Linked DNA regions of Homo sapiens. The protein of the gene in region 7 purifies or fractionates together with the protein of the main gene of each other region. This does not show direct contact. Each region holds a gene or a part of one and is shown on either strand. Other genes may lie near its edges. The genes, in order: NISCH, DCAF6, LNPEP, CETN3, PDP1, CDC26 and PNOC.

Region 1 (3,500 bases), on a different chromosome or scaffold from region 7:
CTCCAGCCTGGGTGACAGAGCGAGACTCCATCTCAAAAAAGAGAAAAGGCTAGAAAAGGCATCACCAGGTCACCAGGGCAAAGGCCCTTTGGGCTTGAAAAGCATTGCTCCTAAAGCAGGGCCAGGACTTAATTCTAAGTGGCTGTTATGTGGTAAATTGTTCAGCTTTGAACGATTTCACAATCGTTTAAAGACATAGGAACCAAAGGCATGCTTTAATGCAAGTTTACTTCCACATGCTAAATATGCTCCAGCCCTTCCTTAAATTCTGCAACGACTGTGTTCCCAGTGAGTGTTGCGTGAGGGCCCGAGTGTGGTGCTCCACACAGATGTTTTTATGCAGGAAGTCCTTGTTCCTGAAGCCTCAGAATTTGATGAGTGGGAGCCTGAAGGCACAACCCTAGAAGGCCCTGTGACTGCCGTCATCCCCACTTGGCAGGCATTGACCACGCTTGACCTGAGCCACAACAGCGTCTCCGAGATCGACGAGTCTGTGGTATGCTCTCAGCAGCAGGTGCCAGGGGTTTCTCTGGCCCCACCAAACCCTGAGTTTGAGTATTTAACTCAGCTTTTTTAGGAAGGACCACGGAAAACCTATATCTAGTGCTCTGTGCATTGCCTGCCATTTTAAGTTAATTACAAAATGGGGGCTGGGCGTGGTGGGTCACACCTGTAATCCCAGCACTTTGGGAGGCCGAGGCGGGAGGATCACTTGAGGTCAGGAGTTCGAGACCAGCCTGACCAATGTGGTGAAACCCCATCTCTACTAAAAATACAAAAATTAGCTGGGTGTGGTGGTGCACACCTGTAATCCCAGCTACTTTGGGAGGCTTAGGCAGGAGAATCGCTTGAACCCGGGAGGCGGATGTTGCAGTGAGCTGAGATAGGGCCACTGCATTCCAGCCTGGGCGACAGAGTGAGACTCCGTCTCAAAAGAAGAAAAAAAAATGGGATCATTTAAAATTGGTGAGGTAGTACTTAGAACCAAATAAAACATAATAATTTCATGTAAATTTGGTAAACTATAACACACTAAATGATGACATTTGCTCCAAAGAGTGGAGCAGAAAAATCACTCCTTAGATGACAGATGTGCCCATGAAAGAATGACACCCAGAGGGCATTTGGGCAGTAAGAGTGTCGTTCCCGTGTTTGCGCTGCTCAGGGAGTGTGGGCAGGGTTGAAGAAGAACAGACTCTCTTCTCTGTCTGGGACCTTGCTGTGTGTCATTTTCACAAGCCAAGTGTTCCATGAAAACTGAGTAGTGCCCAGCACTGGGGGCCCTGTGTGTGCCTTTGGATGTGCTACTGGCTGGGCAGCGGGAGATGTCCCACCAGTGGTCCTGCAGGGACGGCCCGTGGGAGTCCATGGTCGGGAGGAAGCGTCCTGGGGTGCCCGTCCACTGTGTCGGGGACCGTGTTTGGGGTCCAGCCCCCTACAGTAACATCGGGTGTTCTTTTCTTTCACAAGAAACTGATCCCAAAGATTGAGTTCCTGGACCTGAGTCACAATGGATTGCTGGTTGTGGACAATCTGCAGGTAGTGCCTTTGGAGACCAGTGCTGCCCGCACACACTCCCAAGGCCCCGCCCTGAGATTTCAGGAGACTGACGCAGCCTTGGGAATTGGCCAGGGGTTGTAAGGGCAGGGGTTGCTGTCTTCGCTTTAGGATCCCAGCAATGCACTGAGTGATTGTTGCTCTAGTTCCAAAGAATTAGGAAGCATGAGTAAATACAAACCAGGCATGATGATGCACCTCCGTCCTGAAGGTGGACAGCCATGTTTTCAACGCCCACCCCAACTGTCTGCAGGGGTGCCACTGTGCTGTGGCATGTGCGGCAGAGAAGAGGGACTTCCCTTCCTAAAATAACTGTCAGAGTGACTTGCAGAACTGGGTAGTTTGGGTTGGAAGGCCCATCCTGCCATTAGTGTCAGGCCCCTATCTTTGGAGACTTGACCTGAGCCACTTTACGCTGTTCTCCACGCCGCTGCAGCACCTGTATAACCTTGTGCATCTGGACCTGTCCTACAACAAGCTCTCCTCCTTGGAAGGGCTTCACACCAAGCTGGGGAACATCAAGACCTTAAACCTGGCAGGCAACCTCCTAGAGAGTCTGAGTGGCCTGCACAAGCTCTACTCACTGGTCAACCTGGATCTCCGGGACAACAGGATCGAACAGGTGAGCCCAAGGACCTCACAGTTTTGGGATTTCTGTGCCTTGGTGTGTATCATGTTAAAGAAGAATGTTAAGATTCCTTTCATTTAAAAGAGACCATGAAACGTGTTGGCGTGTTGCTGAAGTGTTAAGAGAAGGGACCAAAGGGGATGGAACTCATACCTTGCAGATGGAGGAGGTCCGGAGCATAGGCAGCCTCCCGTGTCTGGAGCACGTGTCTCTGCTGAACAACCCTCTGAGCATCATCCCCGACTACCGGACCAAGGTGCTGGCTCAGTTCGGAGAGAGGGCCTCAGAGGTGAGCCCCAGCACAGTCAGAAGAGCCCAGGGAGACCTTCGGGATGCAGTCAAGTCTGCATGGGCGGTAGGGGGATATATGTCCATTGTTCTACCCTTGCCTGCTTCAGAAAGAGGTCCTGTCCCTTAGGGGCTTTTCAGTTCTGGGAAGTCCACTATCTCCCCAGGAAAAAGCTCCCTTGCATCTCCTGCCCCTACTGTCTGGGATAACATTGTTTATTCTAGGAAAGGGTCAGAAATAAGATCCTTAAAATATTCATATCTCCTGGACAACCTGTGGCCATAGTGCCTGACTGTAAACCCAAAGGGTTTGCCTTTGCCAGTGTAGCCCAGCCTGGTGTCTGCTGCCCCTCGCGGTGTCTGTGCACCTGCCACGATGCTGACCAGACACCCTTAACCAGGTTCACCCATCGCCTGGGCCTGGAGCAGTCCCCGTGATGCTCTGATTGGTCCTTGGACCTTCTGTTCTCCCAAAATCCCAGGTCAGAAAATACCTGGAAGTCTATTTGTGTCCCACCTCCCTCTTTGTGGCCGCAAGTGCCCCTTCCTCCACACAGTCACAAGACCATGAGATGCCATCTCCTCCCCTCCTGGGCTGCAGACTTTGGGAAGCTCCCAGGCCACAGAGTGTCAGCTCCTGTCCAGGCCCTTGGGACCTTCCCTCATTCAACCACCCTACCCAACCCCCCACTGCCTGCCAGCCACCACTCCCTCCCACATTTGCAGGCGGGGGCCCTGCCCTCTCCTGCCGCTGGTTCCCCTACCCAGGAGGCTCTCCCATCGCTCTTTTGAGAGTCTGCCTCCCACCTCTAACTGGGGGCTTAGTTCAAGTTGCCCCCTTACCCTAGTCCCAGCTGCCCAAGAGCTTGCTGCCTCCTGTTCTTGGTGAGGGACTCCAGAGACAGATGTGAGACCTCCCTGGACCCCTCCAAGGCATTCCCAGGTCACTTCCATGAGTAGTGAAGAGCCGCCTCTGAGCAGGCTGAGCCTCCCTCAGCCTATGGTGTCCTCACGTGGCCTGGCCCAC
Region 2 (3,654 bases), on a different chromosome or scaffold from region 7:
GACCAACGCCTCCTTCTTCCTCGGCCTTCTCAACAGTGAAGACCTTTATGATGATCCATTTCCACCTAGTGAACAGTAAATATATTTTCTCTTCCTTATGATTTTCTTAATAACACTTTTTCTGTAGCTTACTTTATTGTAAGAGTATAGAATATAACACATAAAATATACAAAATATGTGTTAATTGACCATGCTATCAGTAAGGCTTGCGATCAACAGGCTGTTAATGGTCAAATTTTTGGGAAGTCAACAGTTACACATGAATCTTCAACTGTGAGGGGGGCTGGTGCCACTAACCCCTGGGTTGCTCAAGGGTCAGCTGTACCGTGGAAGGAGAAATGAAGGAAGTCCTTCTATGTGATTCTATCCCACACAAGCAAAAAAGGAAAAGGTTGTTAAATCTAGAAAATATAGAAAAATAGTCATCGTATGCTACAGGAGAGATTGGAAAACTGTGGGTCAAAGTAGCAAGGCATTAAATAAAAAGTCAAATTCAGGGTATCTTAAAACAACCAGTTTCTTTAATTAGAAAGCAACAAACATGCAAATGGCAAGTGTAGAAATTTATTTGAACCAACATTTTCACTATGATGAAAATTATTCTTCAACATTGATCCAAGCTCCCACATTTGAAGGTTAGGGAAAATATTGCACTTTGCATTTTCTAGCACTCCTCATACACGGCAAAAAGTTTTAAAAACATTCTGCTAGTTTTGTTTTATACAATCTCCCAAATTCATGCACACAATCATTCCAAACCAATGTTAGGTTATCCCAAAAAAAGGGAAAAACTCCAAAAACCATAACCTTAAAATTGCACTAAAGCTCTGTAAAGAAAAAAATATAATAAATGTCTTATACAAATTTCAGAACATTTAAGTGCTTGCCAAAAAGAGTTTATTATTCCTCATCCTCATTTTCATTCTCTTGACCAGAGCCTTCTGATCTGTCACCCTCCAACCGGTCTGGAAACACAGATAAGAGAATCGCAAAGAGAAATACTTTTAGTAATTACAATTATTAATATTTTTCAATGCCTTTTATTTAAAACGCATTAAAAATCAGTTCACCACTATGTGTGGATGTCTTTAGAGGCAAATAAAAGAGTAAAGAAAACACAGTATTATTAGCTTTGATTATGCATGTTATTCTAAAACATGTAAAAATGAAAAAAGAAACCCACTCCTAAAATCTTGATATATTATGTTCTACTGCAGTGGTTGTCAAACAGTGTTCTTTGGAGTCTAGGTTTCTAAGGAGGTACATCAGGTGCTGCAAAGGGGAGTGAGGAGGCAGCTGTGTGAGAGAAAATATGTGGACGATTGTTGAGGATTTGTGTAATTCTGTTTGTAAAAAGATTTTTTTAAATTAAATACTATGTTCCAGGCATTGTGATAAAACCTGAGAATACAATGGTGACCAAAACAGATGTAAATTTCTGGTCTCAAGGAGCTTATTTAGGTTAAATACTCAAGTGAATATAAACTTACAAACTGGTGAGTACAGTATGCTCGTTCAAGTTTTCAGGAATTACACTTGCTATTCCTCTGCTTGGGATACTTTTGCCCAATTCTTTAGCTATAAAGGTTTACTCATCTCAATACAACTATTATACCCTTGGTGAAACTTTTCCTGGACATTTCCAAACAGGCTATCTGCAGAATTATGAACTCCCTCCTCCACATTCTAGAATATCTTATATGAACTTCATAATGATGATCCTAATTACAGTAATAGTCGTTTGCATGTCTTCCTGCAGACCAGATTGAGAGTTCCTGGAGGGCAGGAGTTACTTCTTTTTATCTTTATATCCTCAGAGCCTAGTATAGGATGTTCAATGAAGGTTTACTGAATAAATGAATATAAGTTTTATGAAGGTAAGATACATTACATAAGGGTATTGTGAAGAAGGCAACAGCATAAAATCACTACCATCACTGAGATGGAACTAGGATGTTTCTGCCCCAGAAACATTTCCACATAGTAACATGGAAAATATTAAGGTTAAGCATAAGGAAAACAGTTCAGTCCCACTGTCAACAGCAAGAGAAGACTGAATCCTGAGATTTTATTTATTATCTACACAGGATTAAATGCTCCCACTGGATCCTAGGTCAACAGCACCAAGAACAGTACACTGAAGGGACTATATGTCCCTTTTAATTGTTTAATTGTCCAAGTGAATTAGATTAAATCTCCTCTATGCCAACTCTAATCCAATGTCAAACCAATGACATAATGTATGTGTAACCTTTATAACCTTAATTATACAAATAGGTATTGAATACAAATAAGTATTCAATTCCTTACTGATCTATAAAGGTCTATTCAAATCTTATTTTGTTCATTTATTTTATAAATATGTATTCAATACATATTTATAAAATAAATGAACAAAATAAGATTTGAATAGACCTTTATAGATCAGTAAGGAATTTAAACACAGTAGAAGAATTTCTGACCAATAAAAGGCTACCTAAGGGATATTAGTATAAAAAAAATTACATTGTTTTTATTGTGTGATACTTTCAAGAGAGAACAAAACATGAAGTTGCTATTCTACTTAAGTAGGGCTCAGGAATGGGAATCCTGAGTATGACTGAATATATTCAAGAAACCTATCCTGTCATGTTAGAGCATGATGAAGCAGTAACGGCCTATCTCAAAGTTGGCAGGCTTCTTACTCAAATTTCTTTTGGTTGTCACATTATAAAGAAGATGGGATAATAGAGAGTTAAGAAAAAAATGTCACAGCCTTTAAATCAGGGAGTTTGCAGTAGAGGTTAGACTTTTACACTCAGAGGCACACAATAAAGAGACAAATGAGGGCCAAGAGTCTTACGATAGGTCACAGAATAAGTGACAGTGGCTTCTGAAATGAGGAAAGCAGAATAGTTGTTCTCTCCTCAAATTCAATTCATTTAACTGATGCATAGTCACCTCTTCCAGAATGTAAGCCCAACTTCTCAGAATTAATTAAATCTTCTGTTCATGAAATGCTACTGAAGTAGTAAGGCTGCAAAGCAGTTAACACTTATACAAATCTCTGGTTGGCAATTATAGACAAGGAGGTCTGAAGAACAGTGTGTTCTCTTAAATAAAAACTGGAAATAAGAATCACTTCTATGTATACTGTTTTTCTTTTTCTTCTTTTTTTTTTGAGACCGAGTCTCGCTCTATCGCCCAGGCTGGAGTGCAGTGGCGCGATCTTGGCTCACTGCAACCTCCGCCTCCCGGGTTCAAGCGATTCTCCTGTCTCGCCCTCCCGAGTAGCTGGGACTACAGGAGCGTGCCACCACACCCGGCTGATTTTTTTGTTTTTAGTAGAGATGGGGTTTCACCATGTTAGCCAGGATGTCTATGTATACTGTTTTTCAGAAGTAGCAATGTCAAATTGCTTTTGTAAATAAGGTTTACATTTGTAGAAAGGTTCCTTTTATTCTGTTAGAATATTTCTTCAGGAAACTGGGGAAGATAATGATATGAAGAGACACTGAGTTTGCTGCAGAGGGAGGGAAGGTAGATAAGAAAAAAATTTCCCAATGGAAGCCTGTGTTTCACAAAAAACACTGTTGTTTTATTTTCCAGGCTACCCTTTACAAAGAATTTATTTACTTTCTTTAAAAGAAATAATACAAATTCATTGTTAGCTA
Region 3 (3,500 bases), on a different chromosome or scaffold from region 7:
TTTGCATGCAGGGTTGGTATATTTTGTAAAAACTTAAATTCATCTTAAGAAATGCAAATGCTAAGGTTCACCCTCAGAATCTGATTAAGGAGGTCTGATTATATATGAAATACATACTAGAAAGTATGTATACTTTCTTTTTTTTTTTTTTTGAGACACAGTCTCACTCTGTTGCCCAGGCTGGAGTGCAGTGGCACAATCTCAGCTCACTGCAACCTCTGCCTCCCGGGTTCAAGTGATCCTCCTGCCTCAGCCTCCCGAGTAGCTGGGATTACAGGCGCCCGCCACCATGCCCAAATAATTTTTGTATTTCTAGTAGAAATGAGGTTTCACCATGTTGGCCAGGTGAACTCCTGACCTCAAGTGATCCGCTCACCTTAGCCTCCCAAAGTACTGGGATTACAGGCATGAGCCACCGCGCCCAGCTGAAAGTATATATACTTTCTAGTTTGTGATATATTCTAAAGTATATCTAAAGGTTGGTATTTTGGCATTTTGAGGTCCCAGAACTGAAAACATAAATAGTTTTTTTTTTCATATGAATGTAGGTCCTATGAATCACTTTTATTACCGCAGTGTGGTGCATAATCAAACAAGGAGGACTTAGTTGTCTTAAAAAATTATTTTTGCTTTCATGTTCAGATTGGTATCCAGTTGAAAGTATTTTTCAACTTCAAAAATGGGAAGTCTGGGCAACAAATGAGATATTTGTGGGTTGTAATACAGTATAAAATTGTGATTCCATCTTTTAATCTTACAAATAACAATTGTTCTATAGATATGTGAGTCTTTTTAAAAAAAAATTTTTAGCATCACTTCTCAAAAATGTGAGCATACCACATTTTGTTTTTATTTTTCTTTTGCTCTATGATAAATTTCCACATTGAAAGACAACTCTTAAGAAATAGGAGCTCATAGTTTCTCTGTGTGATGGAATATAAGTTAAATCCTGTTTTTATCTTTCTGTCTTAAGTTTTTAATTTTATTTGGGGGAAATAAGACTGTTAGGAATTAAGTGTTAGCATCACTAACAATCTAGGGTTAAAGCTATAGCTAGAAACAGCCCAGTTTTTAACTGGAAACTAGTGGTAGAAAAGTTCTTTGCTATTACTTGCCAGTTTCCAAAAACTGTCTTGATACATGCATAAAAACAGCATATTTTAGAAACTCTTATAACCGGTGATTATCATTTATCTGTAGGTTATCCTTGAGAACTCAGCCTGAAAGATAGATAACCAGAGAGATTGGTTATAAGGAAATTATATAGAAAATAAGTGGTAATTTTCTGCTCAGTAATTCAATCATACAGCTATCTTTTGAATGCCCATTTACAAGTAGATTTTCTGCTAGACACAGTTACATTAAAAAAAAAAAACCCACAACCTCGTCATCAGATAATGCTTACCTAAATAAGAGAAATGAATAGAAGAACCTAGTTTTGTTGTCATGCTAATATGAAATATGGAAACACAGAAGAAATAAAAAAGCAATAAAGTTTTGTCTAAGACAGTATTCTAATTATGAAATAAATGTACAGAAACTGTTCATAACTGTTTGCATGTCTACTAATTTAGTGTAATACTCCTATTAGGAAACAGCAGTATTAACCCTGTCTATGAAAACATTAGGAAATTGAGATTTGAAAGAGTTTAGCCAAGATTACCCCAGATGTTGGGATGGACCTAGATGAGGCCTGTGGTTCTTGGCAGTCGAGGTGAGGTCAGTGCAGCTATGTTTTGTCAATTAGTCACCTCATGACTTGAAAACTGTAGGGCAGCAGTCCCCAAACTTTTCGGGACCAGGGACCACAGTCGGGGGGATGTATGTATACTTTCTAGTTTGTGATATATTCTAAAGGGGAGAAGGTTTGGGGATGACTCAAGTGCATTATATTTATTGTGCACTTTATTTCTATTATTATTGCATTGTAATATACAATGAAATAATTATACAACTCACCATAATGTAGAATCAGTGGGAGCCCTGAGCTTGTTTTCCTGCAAGTAGACAGTCCCATCTAGGAGTGGTGGGAGACAGTGACAGATCAGGCATTAAATTCTCAAAAGGAGCACACAACCTAGATCCCTCACATGCGCAGTTCACAATAGGGTTCGTGCTCCTATGAGAATCTAATGCCACCACTGATCTGACAGGAGGTGGAGCTCAGGTGGTAATGCTAACGATGGGGACTGACTGTAGAGATGAAGCTTCACTTGTTTGCCTGCTGCTCACTCCTGCTGTGTGGCCTGATTCCTAACAGGCCAGAGACTGGTACTGGTCTGTGGCCTTGGGGTTGGGCAAACCTACTGTAGGGGGCTGGAGTTGAGCTGATACTACTAGGCCTTTCCATAGTATAATTGGAGCAACCAGAAAGACACAGTCTTTTATTTATTTATTTATTATTATTTTTTTAATTTGAATCCGTAGATAAATTTCAGCAACTTTTCTGAAAGTTTGCAAGAAGCCAGGATTGAGAATGAAGGGACATTTTGGAGCCCTTGTGGTGGTACAGTTCTTTTTATATCTAGATCTTGACCTAGATCTACATATGGCCGTTATAGAGAGTGTTGCTTATTGCCTTGGTGTTTCTGGACAGTAAATGGAACATCAAGAGTTCTCTGTGTCCATGGAAGGGTGGACAGGATTCCCTTGTAACCTTATCCATTGTTGTAATTCATTTGTGATTGTCCTAGCAGCACCTGAAGGACTTTGCATTTTACAAAGATGTTTAGAGAAAATTGGAAGAGGAGAATCAATGATGAAGATGAAAGAAATGTGGAGATTGGGGGTAAAGGAAGAAGCTGATAGGCAGAGATTTTAAAAATGGTCATGCCTTGATCCTTGCAAGTCTTTGGTTCAGAAATGAGCTTCAGTTGGAGAGCAGGACACTGTTGTATGAGGTTGAAGACAGAGTCTAGGTTGGAAGGGGACAGGTAGGTAGGTCTGGTTGGATTAATGGAATTGGGGGCTCAGGGGACAAATGAGTTAAGATTGGCATTTGGGAGCCTTGCCAAGAGATAGAAAACATTTGCCAGAAATTTAAGCATACTGTCTTTTTTATAGTCAGAAAATTCAGTCACTCGTAAGTTGGGACTGTTCACTTGTCTGAATGTTTTAGATTTAAAGAAAAAATATAGCTCTTTGATAAACAACGTGGTGTGGAGCTGTGGTAAGCCTGCTCTTGCTCCTGACTCACCGCCGCTCGCTCTCACCAAAAAACAGGTTGGTCAGGAGATACAGAAAAACGCCCATGAAGCCAGAGGTGGCAATTCACTGAATTAGAATCACTCTAGGCCCAGCGCGGTGGCTCACACCTATACTCCCAGCACTTTGGGAGGCTGAGGCAGGCGGATCACCTGAGGTCAGGAGTTTGAGGCCAGCCTGGCCAACATGGTGAAACCCTGTCTCTACTAAAAATACAAAAATTAGCTGAGTATGTTGGCACGTGCCTGAAATCCCAGCTACTCGGGAGGCTGAGGCACAAGAATCACTTGGACCCA
Region 4 (3,500 bases), on a different chromosome or scaffold from region 7:
TAAAAAAGGTTAACATTTAAAATATGGATTTGATTTTTCTAATTTCAGGTTTATCTCGGGGTTTGGGGATCTCATTTGACATTTTATTGTCAGACTAAAAGTTGACAGTCACAGCTTTAATTCTCATCTAATATTTAGTTGATTTCACAAATGAATGCCTTTGTGATTATGCAGGTTTATTAAAATATATATGTTTTTAAACTGTAGTGACAGACTGGATATTGGAAAGAGATCCCCATGAAGAAATACTCAAGGCATTTAAACTATTTGATGATGATGATTCAGGTAAAATAAGCTTGAGGAATTTGCGACGTGTTGCTAGAGAATTGGGTGAAAACATGAGTGATGAAGAACTTCGAGCTATGATAGAAGAATTTGACAAAGATGGTGATGGAGAAAGTAAGTTTTAAGTGAAACGTATTTTCCAGGTTTTCCTGATGCTACACATGTAATACATTTTTCTAAAACCAAATGACTTGCAAGACTTTTTTGTAAACTTAACTGCTTCTTGTAATGGACCTTCTGTCTAAATAATTCACATATTCAATTTAGAATGAAGCAGATCTCTAAAACCAATTATACTTCAAGAAGGTCCTTCACTTTTCTCTGAAGGTGAAACCACCAAAATTTCAGCCTTTCAATATAATTTCAGTCTTTAATGGCTTCTCCCTCAACCTACATGCTAAGTTCTAAGTTCTATTGATTTTCCCCTTCAAATGTTTTGAATCTGTTTTTATCTTTGTCCATTGTGGCTGTCCTAGTTCAGGCCCTAATTTCTAGTTAGGAATGTTATAATGGCCTCATTTATTCTTGCCTTGGCTGCCTACTGGGTGCAGTGTCCTGCGTGTTGACTGGTGCTACACAATGAAAAAGGCAGATGTGGTTCTTGCTTTCACTTTGCAGTCTCTTGTAGTGTCCTAATTGCCCTTTCGGCATATAAAAGTCTCTAATCTCTTCTTCAGTCTCTTGGTATCATTCTTTTCCTAAAATATACATTTGATAATGCCATTTCTGTGTTTAGACACTTGAAACGATTCTTCAGTGCCTACAGAGTAAAGTTCAAAGCCTTCTATGATCTATCCCACCTTGAGTAACTGATTTTACTTTCCAGTGTATTCTTTCACTTTTCTTCTTTAACCCTCACCTCCTGTATGTACACATTTTGTCAACATATGCTATCCTGAAAACACATTTTTATGCTATTCGTTTCATCCTGCTGTTTCTTAATCTTAGAATGCTCTAATTGTTAATTTCTGCCTGCTAAAATGTGATTCATTCTCTCAGGTAAATATTAAACACCATCTTTTTCCCAAAAGCTTCCCATAACGCTCTATGAATCATGAGACTTCCATTGAAGGCCTATAGCATTTAGAGAAACAAATTGTTTTGATACTTTCATACACTTAATATGGAATCTTTTGGCTGGAAACTAAGTTTTGTTGAGATAAAAACCACTTTATTTGTATGTTAAACTGCTAAAGATTAGACCTTGCTGTCTTTTTTGTGGACTTTAGTGTTCTTCTCTCTTTGTGACTTTTTCATGCTTTTCAGTATCTAAGAGCAATGAAATTTTAAAAATATTGGGTATATAGAATAATAAACATGGTGAATGTGAAGTTAAAGGTAAATAAGATGTACTACAAGATAGACATAAAGCTGTGGTAATGATACAGAAAGAGTCACTTCCCCCTGCCCCCTCAACAGCATATATAAAATAAAACACAGCACATCTTTTGGAAAAAATGAAAGGAACGTTTTGAAAAGCCAGAATGGATAATCTTTTAAATAATGATGATGTTTTTTAACATTTATTTAGCAGCTACTATATTGGATATTAGCATTAATTATGTCACTTAATTTCCATAATAACTTGTAAAGTAGATATAGTATTATACCTATACATGTGTATAATAGATGCATATATAGAGATGAGGAAGCTAAAGCTTTGAGAGATTATTAATCTGCCCAGGTTATCACAAAGCTAATACTGTACATGGTAGAGCCAGAACTCAAAATCAAATCTCCAAAATGGCAAAGAATGTGCTTTTAAACGTAATATTGTATTGCCTTTCGGGCTATGAAGTAAAATATTAACTAGACTTCTATGTTTATGGAGTTTTAAAAATTACATGCTATTATAGGAAGCAGTGTATTAGCAACATACTCAGTTGGAACTTCCAATTCTAAGATTTGCTTTTCCCCTTCAAAGCCAGATGGTCTCTAAGGTACTTAATCTACTTAGTTCTGTAAAATTCTTATTGTTAGCAACTTGTAATAAGATTTGCTCTATGAAATGGTTGATGTATGAAAAATTTTGTTAAAGAAGGCAGTATAAAAGGAAACAAAGTGTCATATTTTCTTGATTCAATAAATGTTTTACCAAAGCTTATTTTAAGCTAGGCATTGTGGTAGATTTATTAGATATAGGAACTTGATATAAGATATTGTTAATAGAGAAGGTTATAAAATCAAATGCACAGAGATATAGAAGATTGTCTTTTAATTGTCTACAAGACAATTAAAGTAAAGTAGCTAGTTTAATTTCCTGAGCCACTTTCTAATTTTTACTTTCTTGGGTTTAAGTAGTGTGTTTTTAGGTATGAATCATGGAATTCAGTTGTCCCTTGATAAGCACAGGGGATTGGTTCCAAGTCGCTTAAGGATGCCAGAATCTATGGTGCTCAAGTCCCTTGTATAAAATGGCATAGTATTTTCATATAACTTTCACATATCCTCTTGTATACGTTAAATCATCTCTAGATTACTTATAATACCTAATACAATGTAAATGCTATGTAAATTGTTATACTTTATTTTATTTGTATTATTTTTTATTGTGTTATTTTCCCAAATATTTTTCATCTGCAGTTGGTTGAATCTGCAGATGTGAGGAACCTGTGGTTACAGAAGGCTGACCGTATTTTAAATACTTTTGAAATGCTATTATAGTTTAAAGTTTTTGTATATAAACAATATAAAAATTAAGTGTTTTGTGGTTTTCAAACTTATATATGAAACTTAAAATTTGCAGTTTGAGTATTGAAATTTTACAGATCAAGAAAAAGTTCTAGATCTTTAAGTAACAAGTACTTTTTGGATTTTGAATATTTTAATCATGGATGTATTACACTGTTAAAATGATTTGTAATCAAATCATTCTAAGGCTGTTTTATGTTTTTTCTCTTAATACAGTTCTTAAGAACATACTCTTGCTTCCTATTTGGTCTAGATGCCTCAGTCTAAATCGGGAGTTCTTCAGTGAAGGTGCACACTGGCTAAACTGATTAATAATTTTATATATTTGAACTGTATTTATTGGAAAGAGAGAGGGATCATAGCTTTCCTAAGATATTCAGACATGGCTATTTAACTGCAAAGGTTAAAGATCACTACATCAATTTGTAAGATTCTTGAAAGTAGTTTGGAGTATTACAGATTTTGTATTACGTTCTTACCATGTTTGTCATAGTGTTTTGTAGATGTTAAATACTGATTGCATG
Region 5 (3,323 bases), about 66 Mb from region 7:
CTGGATGACTTTCAGGTATTCAGTTTGAATTTCTTTTATTTAAATGGTTACTCCTGATGGATTCCCGTTTTTCTGGAATTTCTGTTTTTCATTAGTGCATTTCAGAATGCTTTTTTAGTTACGGATTCTTATTTCCAAAATTTTAGCCATTACTTTCTATTGCCTGATCTTGTCTTCATTTTCGTAAACAAATCCCTTCTTAGATAGTGCAGTTAAAATGATGGTACTTTCTACTACTTGCAGAAGAGAATCTGTGTGGCTGGCTTATGCAGTGCTTATTACAGAAACAAACAAGAATCAGTGATTATTCAGTGTTTAGTTTTCTTTGCTTCCCTCTACCCCAATTTATTACTTTTTCTCAAATTATTCTTCAAAAAAGGTACATGAAAATAATATATGGCTGACACATGCTATGATATTTGTTTAGCCGTGGGAAGGAATAGTTGCTATTAACTCAGATGGTTTTATTTTCTGTGTTCCTTTTTGTTTATTGCATTTGTTTATTTAAAGTATTTCCAAAGTGTTTCTTTATAGTACAAATGACTATTTTGAAGCAGTATCTCAAGAATTCAGGGAAAATATATGTTATTGAGGAAGAAGAGGGATTTTTTTTCTTGCCCAAATTATCTAGATTAATGATATATTCATTAAATTTCCCAAATAAATGCCCAGAAATTATTTTCAGCGCACATAGTGAGTGATAGGATTTTTTTTAAGTTTGTAATTATATTGCTGTACCTTTTCAATCCAAACCTTAGACTATTATTTGACTATACTGCTTCCCTGGAGCAAGTAAATACCTTTTTTTTTTTTTTTTAATGTGAGAGAAAACATTTTTGGTCTTTTAAAATTTATTTTTAATTTACAATTGACACATAATATTATATATTTATGGGGTACAATGTGATGTTTCAGTGCATGTATATATTGGTAGACATTGTGTAATGATCAAATCAGAGTGATTACCATATCCAAGAAAACATTTTTCTAGGGGTTAATTCTACTTTGGATCCATAGTAGATGAAAATACTTCTATGGGTTTTCCTTATAGCTGCTAAGCAGGGAACATTGTTAGTAGGTAAATTAAGTTCTAGGACTGAAACCATTTATGTTACTAACAAAGCTTTAGAGCTACTGCAATACTTAAACTTTTTTTTTTTTTTTAATCATGAAGGGCACGGTAGAATTCAACAGTGAATAAATGAAACCTGAATTTTATTTAAAAACCTCACTTCCATAAGCATAAAGGCATGAATCCTAGAAGAGCCTTAGATAGCATCTGCTCTGTTGATGTTCCTTTACAGGTTAGAAGAGTGAGACTCAAAGATGTGAGCTGACTTTTCCAAGATTATTTGGGAGTTGGTGGCAGACCTATGCCCGTTAGCCTGGCAAATTGCCACAGTGGACTAGAGAAGCAAGTTTTGCAAGACCATCTACTGGGGTACAGGAGAGAAATACTGGAATTTCTTTTTTTATTTAATTATGTAGAAATTTTTCTATATATGTTACAATGCATATTACTGTAGTCATATATGTATATGATGTACACGTAATTCATAAATACACATATGTTTGGCTGCCTCTTAACATTTTTGGTCATAGCCATGTGTAATCATGCCAAAAATTGACCACAGGTCTATGTAAAGGGTCTTCATAAATGGAAGAAGTCCCTGTGTAAAATGGGAGATTTCAAGGCATTTTTTAAGAATAGGGAGGGAGAAGGATGATTGGTCAGGTAGACGGCTACTGCATAATGTTATATAACCTTCATCTCCTCAGCTTTCCCCAGCCAAATCTGTTGTACATTCTGCACAGTTTGTACTGCACAAAGGACGACAAAGAAAAGAGAAAATTGAAGTTTGAGTATAGGAGCCAGGAGTTCAGTCGTGGTTCCACGAATGATTGGGAGTTGTGCCTGCCAGAATATACCCTGTAGAAATAGTACATGATGTGTGTATAAAATGTAGTACCTTCTAGCAAAGGCTTAACATGTAGATTGACTTGCTTAATATTTGTTATAAAGGCAAAGCTAGATTAAGTATCCTGAAATGTAACTCTTTCCTTTGTGTACATCTGTCTAATTTGCTGTCTAGGAATCCCAGTCAGAAGTTCCAGCCTGCCACTGTTCTCTGATGCCATGCCAGCACCAACTCAACTGTTTTTTCCTCTCATCCGTAACTGTGAACTGAGCAGGATCTATGGCACTGCATGTTACTGCCACCACAAACATCTCTGTTGTTCCTCATCGTACATTCCTCAGAGTCGACTGAGATACACACCTCATCCAGCATATGCTACCTTTTGCAGGCCAAAGGAGAACTGGTGGCAGTACACCCAAGGAAGGAGATATGCTTCCACACCACAGAAATTTTACCTCACACCTCCACAAGTCAATAGCATCCTTAAAGCTAATGAATACAGTTTCAAAGTGCCAGAATTTGACGGCAAAAATGTCAGTTCTATCCTTGGATTTGACAGCAATCAGCTGCCTGCAAATGCACCCATTGAGGACCGGAGAAGTGCAGCAACCTGCTTGCAGACCAGAGGGATGCTTTTGGGGGTTTTTGATGGCCATGCAGGTTGTGCTTGTTCCCAGGCAGTCAGTGAAAGACTCTTTTATTATATTGCTGTCTCTTTGTTACCCCATGAGACTTTGCTAGAGATTGAAAATGCAGTGGAGAGCGGCCGGGCACTGCTACCCATTCTCCAGTGGCACAAGCACCCCAATGATTACTTTAGTAAGGAGGCATCCAAATTGTACTTTAACAGCTTGAGGACTTACTGGCAAGAGCTTATAGACCTCAACACTGGTGAGTCGACTGATATTGATGTTAAGGAGGCTCTAATTAATGCCTTCAAGAGGCTTGATAATGACATCTCCTTGGAGGCGCAAGTTGGTGATCCTAATTCTTTTCTCAACTACCTGGTGCTTCGAGTGGCATTTTCTGGAGCCACTGCTTGTGTGGCCCATGTGGATGGTGTTGACCTTCATGTGGCCAATACTGGCGATAGCAGAGCCATGCTGGGTGTGCAGGAAGAGGACGGCTCATGGTCAGCAGTCACGCTGTCTAATGACCACAATGCTCAAAATGAAAGAGAACTAGAACGGCTGAAATTGGAACATCCAAAGAGTGAGGCCAAGAGTGTCGTGAAACAGGATCGGCTGCTTGGCTTGCTGATGCCATTTAGGGCATTTGGAGATGTAAAGTTCAAATGGAGCATTGACCTTCAAAAGAGAGTGATAGAATCTGGCCCAGACCAGTTGAATGACAATGAATATACCAAGTTTATTCCTCCTAATTATCACACACCTCCTTATCTCA
Region 6 (3,040 bases), on a different chromosome or scaffold from region 7:
CCTCCTCTCTTTCATTTTTAACAGCTAATAGTTCACTGGGTTTGGCCCTTAGTGTTGACTTCAGTATGCTGAGACGGAAACCAACACGCCTAGAGCTAAAGCTTGATGACATTGAAGAGTTTGAGAACATTCGAAAGGACCTGGAGGTATGAATACAACTTTGTGTTTTTTTGAGATGGAGTCTCGCTCTGTCACACAGGCTGGAGTACAGTGGCATGATCTTGGCCCACTGCAACCTCTGCCTCCTCTGCCTCAGCCTCCCGCGTGCTGGGACCACAGGTTCATGCCAGCACGCCCAGCTCATTTTTTTATTTTTAGTAGAGTTGGGGTTTTGCCATGTTGGGGCCAGGCTAGTCTCAACTCCTGACCTCAAGTGATCCATCCACCTCAGCCTCCCAAAGTGCTGGGATTACACGCGTGAGCCACTGCACCCAGCCATGAATACAACTTTCAAAGCTTAAGGAATATTTAAGATAATAATTCTTGTGTGGGCACAGTGGCTTACATCTGTAATGCCAGCATTTTCTGGCCAGGAGTTTGAGACCAGCCTGGGCAACATAGTGAGACCTTGTCTCTATGTTGGGCAGGGTGGCGCATGCCTGAGCTACTCAGGAGGCGGAGGCGGGAGGATTGCTTGAGCCCAGGAGTTTGAGGTTACAGTGTGCTATGATGGCTCCACTGTACTCCACACTGGGCAACAGTGAGACTCTCTGTCATACATAAATATGTATATACACACACATACATACACAATAACTTTAACTTCTGAACTGCAGACTCTTAAGCCAACAGCTTATTTGAAATCTCTGTTTGGATGCTTTACAGGCATCTCAAACTTCATGTATGTCTCCTGTGGCTGCTGTAACAAAGTACCACAAACTTCATCGCTTAAGACAACAGAAATTTATTATTTCACAGTTTTATAGGCCAAAAATTAGTATTGCTGGGCTGAAATTTAGGTGTCAGGAGGGCCACATTCCCTATGGAGGATCTAGGGAAGAATCCATTCCTTGGCTCTTCTAGCTTCTGGTGGCTGCTGGCATTCCTTGACTCATGACTGTATCACTCCAGTCTCTGCCTCCAGAGTCATATTGTCTTCTTTTCTGTCTGTGAAAACTTCCTCTGCCTCCTTCTTATGATATGTGTGATTGTGTTTAGGGCCCACCTGACTAACCCAGGATAATCCCCCCTTCTCAAGATCCTTAATTTAGTCACACCTGCAAAGGCCCTTTTCCCATATAAGGCATTTATAGGTTCCAGGATTAGGACCTGCTAGCTTTGGGGGCCATTTTTCAGCCTACTACACTTAACATGTTAAAAAAAGAAGAGAGAAAAACTCTTGATTTCTCCCTTGAACCAGTCGTCCCTTCCATTCTTCCCCAGTGTTTCCCATCTCAGTATTGATTCAGTTCCTCAGGCCAGAAACCTAGCAGTCATTCCTGAGTCCTCCCTTTCTCTTACGCTTTATATTCGATCTGTCTGTAGACCCTTTGATTCTACCTTCAGAATATGTCTGGAATCCACCCATACCTTTTCATCTCCACTGTTACAGTCCTGCGCTAAGTAACCGTCTTTCCCTGTATAATTGTAGTGGCATCCTAACTGGTCTTCTACTTCCATTTTTGTCTCTTTCAGTGCATTCTGCATCCAGTATCAAGAATGATCTTCAGAAATTTTCAAATCCTGTCATTCCCGTTTAAAACTCCTCAGTAGTTTTCTGCACTTATAACAAAATCTGAATTCTTCACCATGGCCTACAAGATTTTGTATGTTCTAGTGCCTCTCCAGATTCATTTTGTGCCATTCTTTGCCTTGCTCTCTATACCCTAGCCACATTGGCTCTCTTTCATTTCCTTGAACATGCCAATCTATTTATCACTTCCATGGACTTTCCACATATTATTTCCCCCTGCCTGGAGTGCTCCCTTTCTTCCAGTCTTCATTCAAATGTCAACTCTTCAATTTAAGAGGCCACTTTTGACCGTATCCAAGTTTCATGTGTCATTCCCGTCCATGCTGCCTCCATCTCTGTAGGCTCTCACAAAGCACCATATTTTTTTCATAGCATTTATTATAATTTACAATTTTTTTTATTGTAAAATCATTTACATTAGGGACGTTGATTGCAGAAATCATGTCTGTTTGCTTCACCATTGAGTTCTTACCATCTAGTTCATAGTAGGGGCCCCATATGTATTTTTAACTGTGGCCTTGCTACATGGTATTAGATGTCCATTAATAAGACTTAAATTCTTCAGTGGTCTACAGAATAAATTCCAAATTCCCTAGCATGGCATATGAGCTCCTTGTGAGCTGGTCCTTGCTTATCTCTCCACTTTCACTGCTGGGTTATCTTTAATCTCAGTGCCTATACACAGTGTTCCCTTTGCCAGAAAAGCCCTTTCTTTTTCTTTGCCAGGCTAACTCTTACTCCTTCCAGCCCCCAGCTGGGTTAGGCTCAACCTTATCCTCCTGTGCTAACCTCTCTCATAGGCACGGTCACTCTCTGTTGTAATTGTCTGTTTGCTTTTGTTTTCCCTCACTGGGCCATAAGCTCCTTGAAGTCAGGGATTAGTATATTTCTCTCTGCATCTGTTCCCTGCAATACCAGGTCCAAAGGAGGGCTCAATGCAAGTCTATTTTCATTTGCTGTCCTAGTAGGTATCTTGTACTATATGGCAGAGGACAGTACGTTTTGCATATATTCACCAACAGCTTTATTATGTATTGTATATGCTTCATATTAAGACTAATAACTTAGATTTCTTTCCCCCTGCTTCATCCCAAGAGACTTTAGTGTTCTCTAAGTATCGTAATTTTTGCTTTCTAAAAACTCATATATTATTAAGCATGAGCTTTAAAGTATGGCTTAAACTTCAGTTGTAACGAATCTCATAAAATGCTAGCATGCTGAACTTTGACTCTACAGTCAGCTCACTATTGAGTTAGTCTTTCCACTAAAGACAGTTATCTAGTGGGTTTTACCTTGTTTTAGAGTAACTTAGGAAGCAGGGACAGTCATGCCCTAAAGTGAAACCAG
Region 7 (3,500 bases):
TTTTTAGTAGAGATGGGGTTTCACCATGTTAGCCAGGATGGTCTCGATCTCCTGACCTCGTGATCCACCCGCCTCGGCCTCCCAAAGTGCTGGGATTACAGGCGTGCGCCACCGCACCCGGCCTACACTTCCATTTTTATGTCGTCAGCTACTTATGGCTCCAAGGAAGCTTGGGAAACATATACGTTGCCTTTAGGAATAAAACAGTGTTCTGTGCATAAGGAGAAGGGGAGATGAATACGGGCCAGTTGCAGCCTCTGCCCCAGAAGGTGACCTGGAAGCCAGGCAGGAGCTCCACGCTATGATGAGGAGCTCTGCCTACTGACTCACAGCAGTAAGGTCAGGTTGAAGTGGGGTTTCCAGCCGGCTAAGGCCAGAAACCTGGACTGAAATTAGGGGTGAAGCCAAAACAGCAAATAGGAAGAAAAGCTGGGGGCAGAGGCTTCCAGGAGACCCAATCAGAACCAAGAACGTGGGAGGTGGGGGGCCAAGGTCAGAACCAGCCAAGAGGGGCTGGAGAAACATCGTGGTCCAGCTGGTGGCTAGAAGTCAGGGTTGGCAGGAGAGGCAGAGCAGAGTGTTCCTAGGAGCCGAGCGGGTCTGCTGGGCTCTGGTCTGATGATGGCATCTCTCCCCACACCTGGAACTGGATCACAGGTTCAGCCCCGCACGTCCAGCCGGCCTACCACCCCACAGGGTCTTGACCCCATTTGCTATAAATGATACACAGATAGTGACGACTGCTGTACGCGGGATGAAAAATTAACAACACCTAGGTAGATCTTTACATGGTGACCTTAAAATAAACCTGCAGATTTGACTACATACTTTCACATCCCCAATTTCTTTAACCCATGTGACCTCCCACAAGCCTGAAGAGAGAACAAAATAAAATTCTTTATGGGTGACAGTCATGAGCTGTGCTTGGCTCCAAAAACCCGACTAAAGATGTAACAAGGTGCGGTGTTGGGCGCATTTATCCTGTGTTAACTTCCTATGTTAACGTGCTGTGACACCAGAGGTAAGTTACGCTCACCTCTCTGAGCCCTGGTTTCTTTGTAAAATGATGGAGCTGGGTCAGATGATTCTCTGTTTGTTTCCAATTCTGAAATTCTACGAACCTAAAACCTGTGTAAAACTGCTCCACGTTACTTGATAACTTAGATGCTTCAGAAGCACTTGCACTGGTGCAGTGGGCCAGATCTCCTCCCTCGCCCTGGATTAACAGAGGTCCTTGTTCCTTCTCCCCTCCTCTCACCCGTATCTTTGCAGGTGTGCATCCTCGAGTGTGAAGAGAAGGTCTTCCCCAGCCCCCTCTGGACTCCATGCACCAAGGTCATGGCCAGGAGCTCTTGGCAGCTCAGCCCTGCCGCCCCAGAGCATGTGGCGGCTGCTCTCTACCAGCCGAGAGCTTCGGAGATGCAGCATCTGCGGCGAATGCCCCGAGTCCGGAGCTTGTTCCAGGAGCAGGAAGAGCCCGAGCCTGGCATGGAGGAGGCTGGTGAGATGGAGCAGAAGCAGCTGCAGAAGAGATTTGGGGGCTTCACCGGGGCCCGGAAGTCGGCCAGGAAGTTGGCCAATCAGAAGCGGTTCAGTGAGTTTATGAGGCAATACTTGGTCCTGAGCATGCAGTCCAGCCAGCGCCGGCGCACCCTGCACCAGAATGGTAATGTGTAGCCGGAAGGGGCGCTCCTCCCAGCTGTACCGGCCACTGCAACCCATGAGTGAGTTGGGCACCAATAAGCTGGGGGCAAGGAGAGACCTCACACACCAACTGTCTTAGCCTTGCTCCCAGGCCTAGAAGCACATTCATCTCCCCGCCCCCTCCCCACTCCACACACACACACCCCGCAAGGAGTCCAGCCCACCCTTTCTCTAGGCAGCAGATTTTCCTATGATTGCACCTTGAAGCTGACCACTTCCGGCTAGAGACTGGTTACCATGGGGATAATAGTAGTATGTTAAGATAACTAATTCCTCTATCACTCCCCAGGAGCTTAGTTACTATGGGGACAGTTAAGTGGACCAATACGCCCATCCAGTTGCCACAGCAACCAGTCAGCTCACCTTTCCTCGAGATTGTCTCTCTAAACACCAAGAGTGGGACCTACTCTTAGCCATTAGCAGAGTCCAATTACCACAGCTATGATGGTGCTATTTCATCTTCAAAGACGGCTTACCTATCCCCTCTCCTTTCCCCAGCTCTCAGGGTGCCTGGCTCCATGGAAACATTAAAGTTTCCCATTTTACCTGGACAAAGAGTTCCTGTTAAGATTAGGAGTTGTGGTTTCTGCTCTTCCTCCTTCCACAAGCCATTTGTCCATCCTGCCACCTTGCCAGAGAGGGACTGATTCCTTGTGGTCAACGGTATCATTACTGAGCAAGACGTGGAGAATTTGGTCCAATGGACCTAGTAGCTACTAGAATATGGACTAAAGGGGTTCATCTTCTTTCCTCCATTTGGCTTCTTTCCAGCGTGCCATTTTTGTTTTGGTTTTGTTTGCTTGCTTTTATTCCTCTCTTTCTTCCTTGTTCTCTCTTTCTTCTGCTCTGTTCCTATACCCACAGGCACCTTATACAAGTCCACATGTCTCATAATATACATCAAATACCCTAACTGATTGCCTGTTCATTCAAAACCCAACTTTCCTTAGGATATCAACCAATACATCACTTTGAGTGGCATTGGCAACCTAGCACAGTAGAATTTTCTGAAAATTTAGGAAACTCCCAACCATCAAGGCTATGTGCCTTAATTTGTATATGGGAATATGATCATCTGCAGAGTCCCATACGTCTCCTTAAATAGCTAAGAAACTTGCCATATTCATCCATTTTGCATTGCTACGAAGGAATACCTGAGGCTGGGTACTTCATAAACAAAGTTTATTTGGCTCACGTTCTGCAGTCTATACAAGAAGCATGGCACCCGCATCTGCTTCTGGTGAGGCCCTCGGGGAGCTTTTACTCATGGCAGAAGGCAAGGGGAGCTGGCGTGCCACATGGCAAGAGGGGGCAAGAGGGGGAAAAGGGGAGGTCCCAGCCTCTTTAACAACCAGATCTCCCACGAACTCATTACCATAGGGTGGGCACAAAGGCATTCCTGAAGGATCCACCCCCATGACCCAAACACCACCCACTAGGCCCACCTCCAACATTAGGGATCACATCTCAACATGAAATTGGAAGAGGACAAACTTCTAAACTGTATCATTGTCCTAACACAAAGAACCAGTCAGATCATCAAAATCACCCCAAAACATTACCCAAGTGGGGCTTTTCCCTGAGTCCGAGCATAAGAGAAAAATGTCTGCATGTGCTATTTTAAGTTGCGTCCCATGTGTCAGAGGTAGCCGTGTCACTAATAACCTTCCTTGATGATCTATTAGTACATATGCTAATGTTTGGTGCCCACACTTTAGCATGGAGACGGCCCCTTTGCAGGTAGGCCAACATGTTCACCACGGGCCTGTTACCAAATATGGACACGTGTATTAAGT

What was found.
Region 1: the proteins of PNOC (region 7) and NISCH purify together in Homo sapiens (co-immunoprecipitation; 2 studies listed by BioGRID and IntAct, with this or other methods). This does not show direct contact.
Region 2: the proteins of PNOC (region 7) and DCAF6 purify together in Homo sapiens (affinity purification with mass spectrometry; one large-scale study listed by BioGRID and IntAct). This does not show direct contact.
Region 3: the proteins of PNOC (region 7) and LNPEP purify together in Homo sapiens (affinity purification with mass spectrometry; one large-scale study listed by BioGRID and IntAct). This does not show direct contact.
Region 4: the proteins of PNOC (region 7) and CETN3 purify together in Homo sapiens (co-immunoprecipitation; 2 studies listed by BioGRID and IntAct, with this or other methods). This does not show direct contact.
Region 5: the proteins of PNOC (region 7) and PDP1 purify together in Homo sapiens (affinity purification with mass spectrometry; one large-scale study listed by BioGRID and IntAct). This does not show direct contact.
Region 6: the proteins of PNOC (region 7) and CDC26 purify together in Homo sapiens (affinity purification with mass spectrometry; one large-scale study listed by BioGRID and IntAct). This does not show direct contact.

The regions. Positions count from the first base shown.
Region 1 is NC_000003.12:52,476,104-52,479,603, forward strand, and holds part of NISCH (nischarin), read left to right. Parts: intron 1-343; coding exon 344-496; intron 497-1,470; coding exon 1,471-1,539; intron 1,540-1,993; coding exon 1,994-2,179; intron 2,180-2,345; coding exon 2,346-2,474; intron 2,475-3,500. UniProt on the Homo sapiens protein: Acts either as the functional imidazoline-1 receptor (I1R) candidate or as a membrane-associated mediator of the I1R signaling.
Region 2 is NC_000001.11:168,072,683-168,076,336, reverse strand, and holds the end of DCAF6 (DDB1- and CUL4-associated factor 6), read right to left. Parts: intron 967-3,654; coding exon 902-966; 3' UTR 501-901; downstream 1-500. UniProt on the Homo sapiens protein: Ligand-dependent coactivator of nuclear receptors. Enhance transcriptional activity of the nuclear receptors NR3C1 and AR. May function as a substrate receptor for CUL4-DDB1 E3 ubiquitin-protein ligase complex.
Region 3 is NC_000005.10:96,939,080-96,942,579, forward strand, and holds part of LNPEP (leucyl-cystinyl aminopeptidase), read left to right. Parts: intron 1-3,500. UniProt on the Homo sapiens protein: Release of an N-terminal amino acid, cleaves before cysteine, leucine as well as other amino acids. Degrades peptide hormones such as oxytocin, vasopressin and angiotensin III, and plays a role in maintaining homeostasis during pregnancy.
Region 4 is NC_000005.10:90,396,257-90,399,756, reverse strand, and holds part of CETN3 (centrin-3), read left to right. Parts: intron 1-207; coding exon 208-399; intron 400-3,192; coding exon of another isoform or gene 3,193-3,264; intron 3,265-3,500. UniProt on the Homo sapiens protein: Plays a fundamental role in microtubule-organizing center structure and function. As a component of the TREX-2 complex, involved in the export of mRNAs to the cytoplasm through the nuclear pores.
Region 5 is NC_000008.11:93,919,923-93,923,245, forward strand, and holds part of PDP1 (pyruvate dehyrogenase phosphatase catalytic subunit 1), read left to right. Parts: intron 1-1,304; exon of another isoform or gene 1,305-1,441; intron 1,442-2,093; coding exon of another isoform or gene 2,094-2,137; coding exon 2,138-3,323. UniProt on the Homo sapiens protein: Mitochondrial enzyme that catalyzes the dephosphorylation and concomitant reactivation of the alpha subunit of the E1 component of the pyruvate dehydrogenase complex (PDC), thereby stimulating the conversion of pyruvate into acetyl-CoA.
Region 6 is NC_000009.12:113,269,533-113,272,572, reverse strand, and holds part of CDC26 (anaphase-promoting complex subunit CDC26), read left to right. Parts: intron 1-24; 5' UTR 25-65; coding exon 66-146; intron 147-3,040. UniProt on the Homo sapiens protein: Component of the anaphase promoting complex/cyclosome (APC/C), a cell cycle-regulated E3 ubiquitin ligase that controls progression through mitosis and the G1 phase of the cell cycle.
Region 7 is NC_000008.11:28,337,768-28,341,267, forward strand, and holds part of PNOC (prepronociceptin isoform 1 preproprotein), read left to right. Parts: intron 1-879; exon of another isoform or gene 880-1,021; intron 1,022-1,272; coding exon 1,273-1,677; 3' UTR 1,678-1,724; intron 1,725-3,500.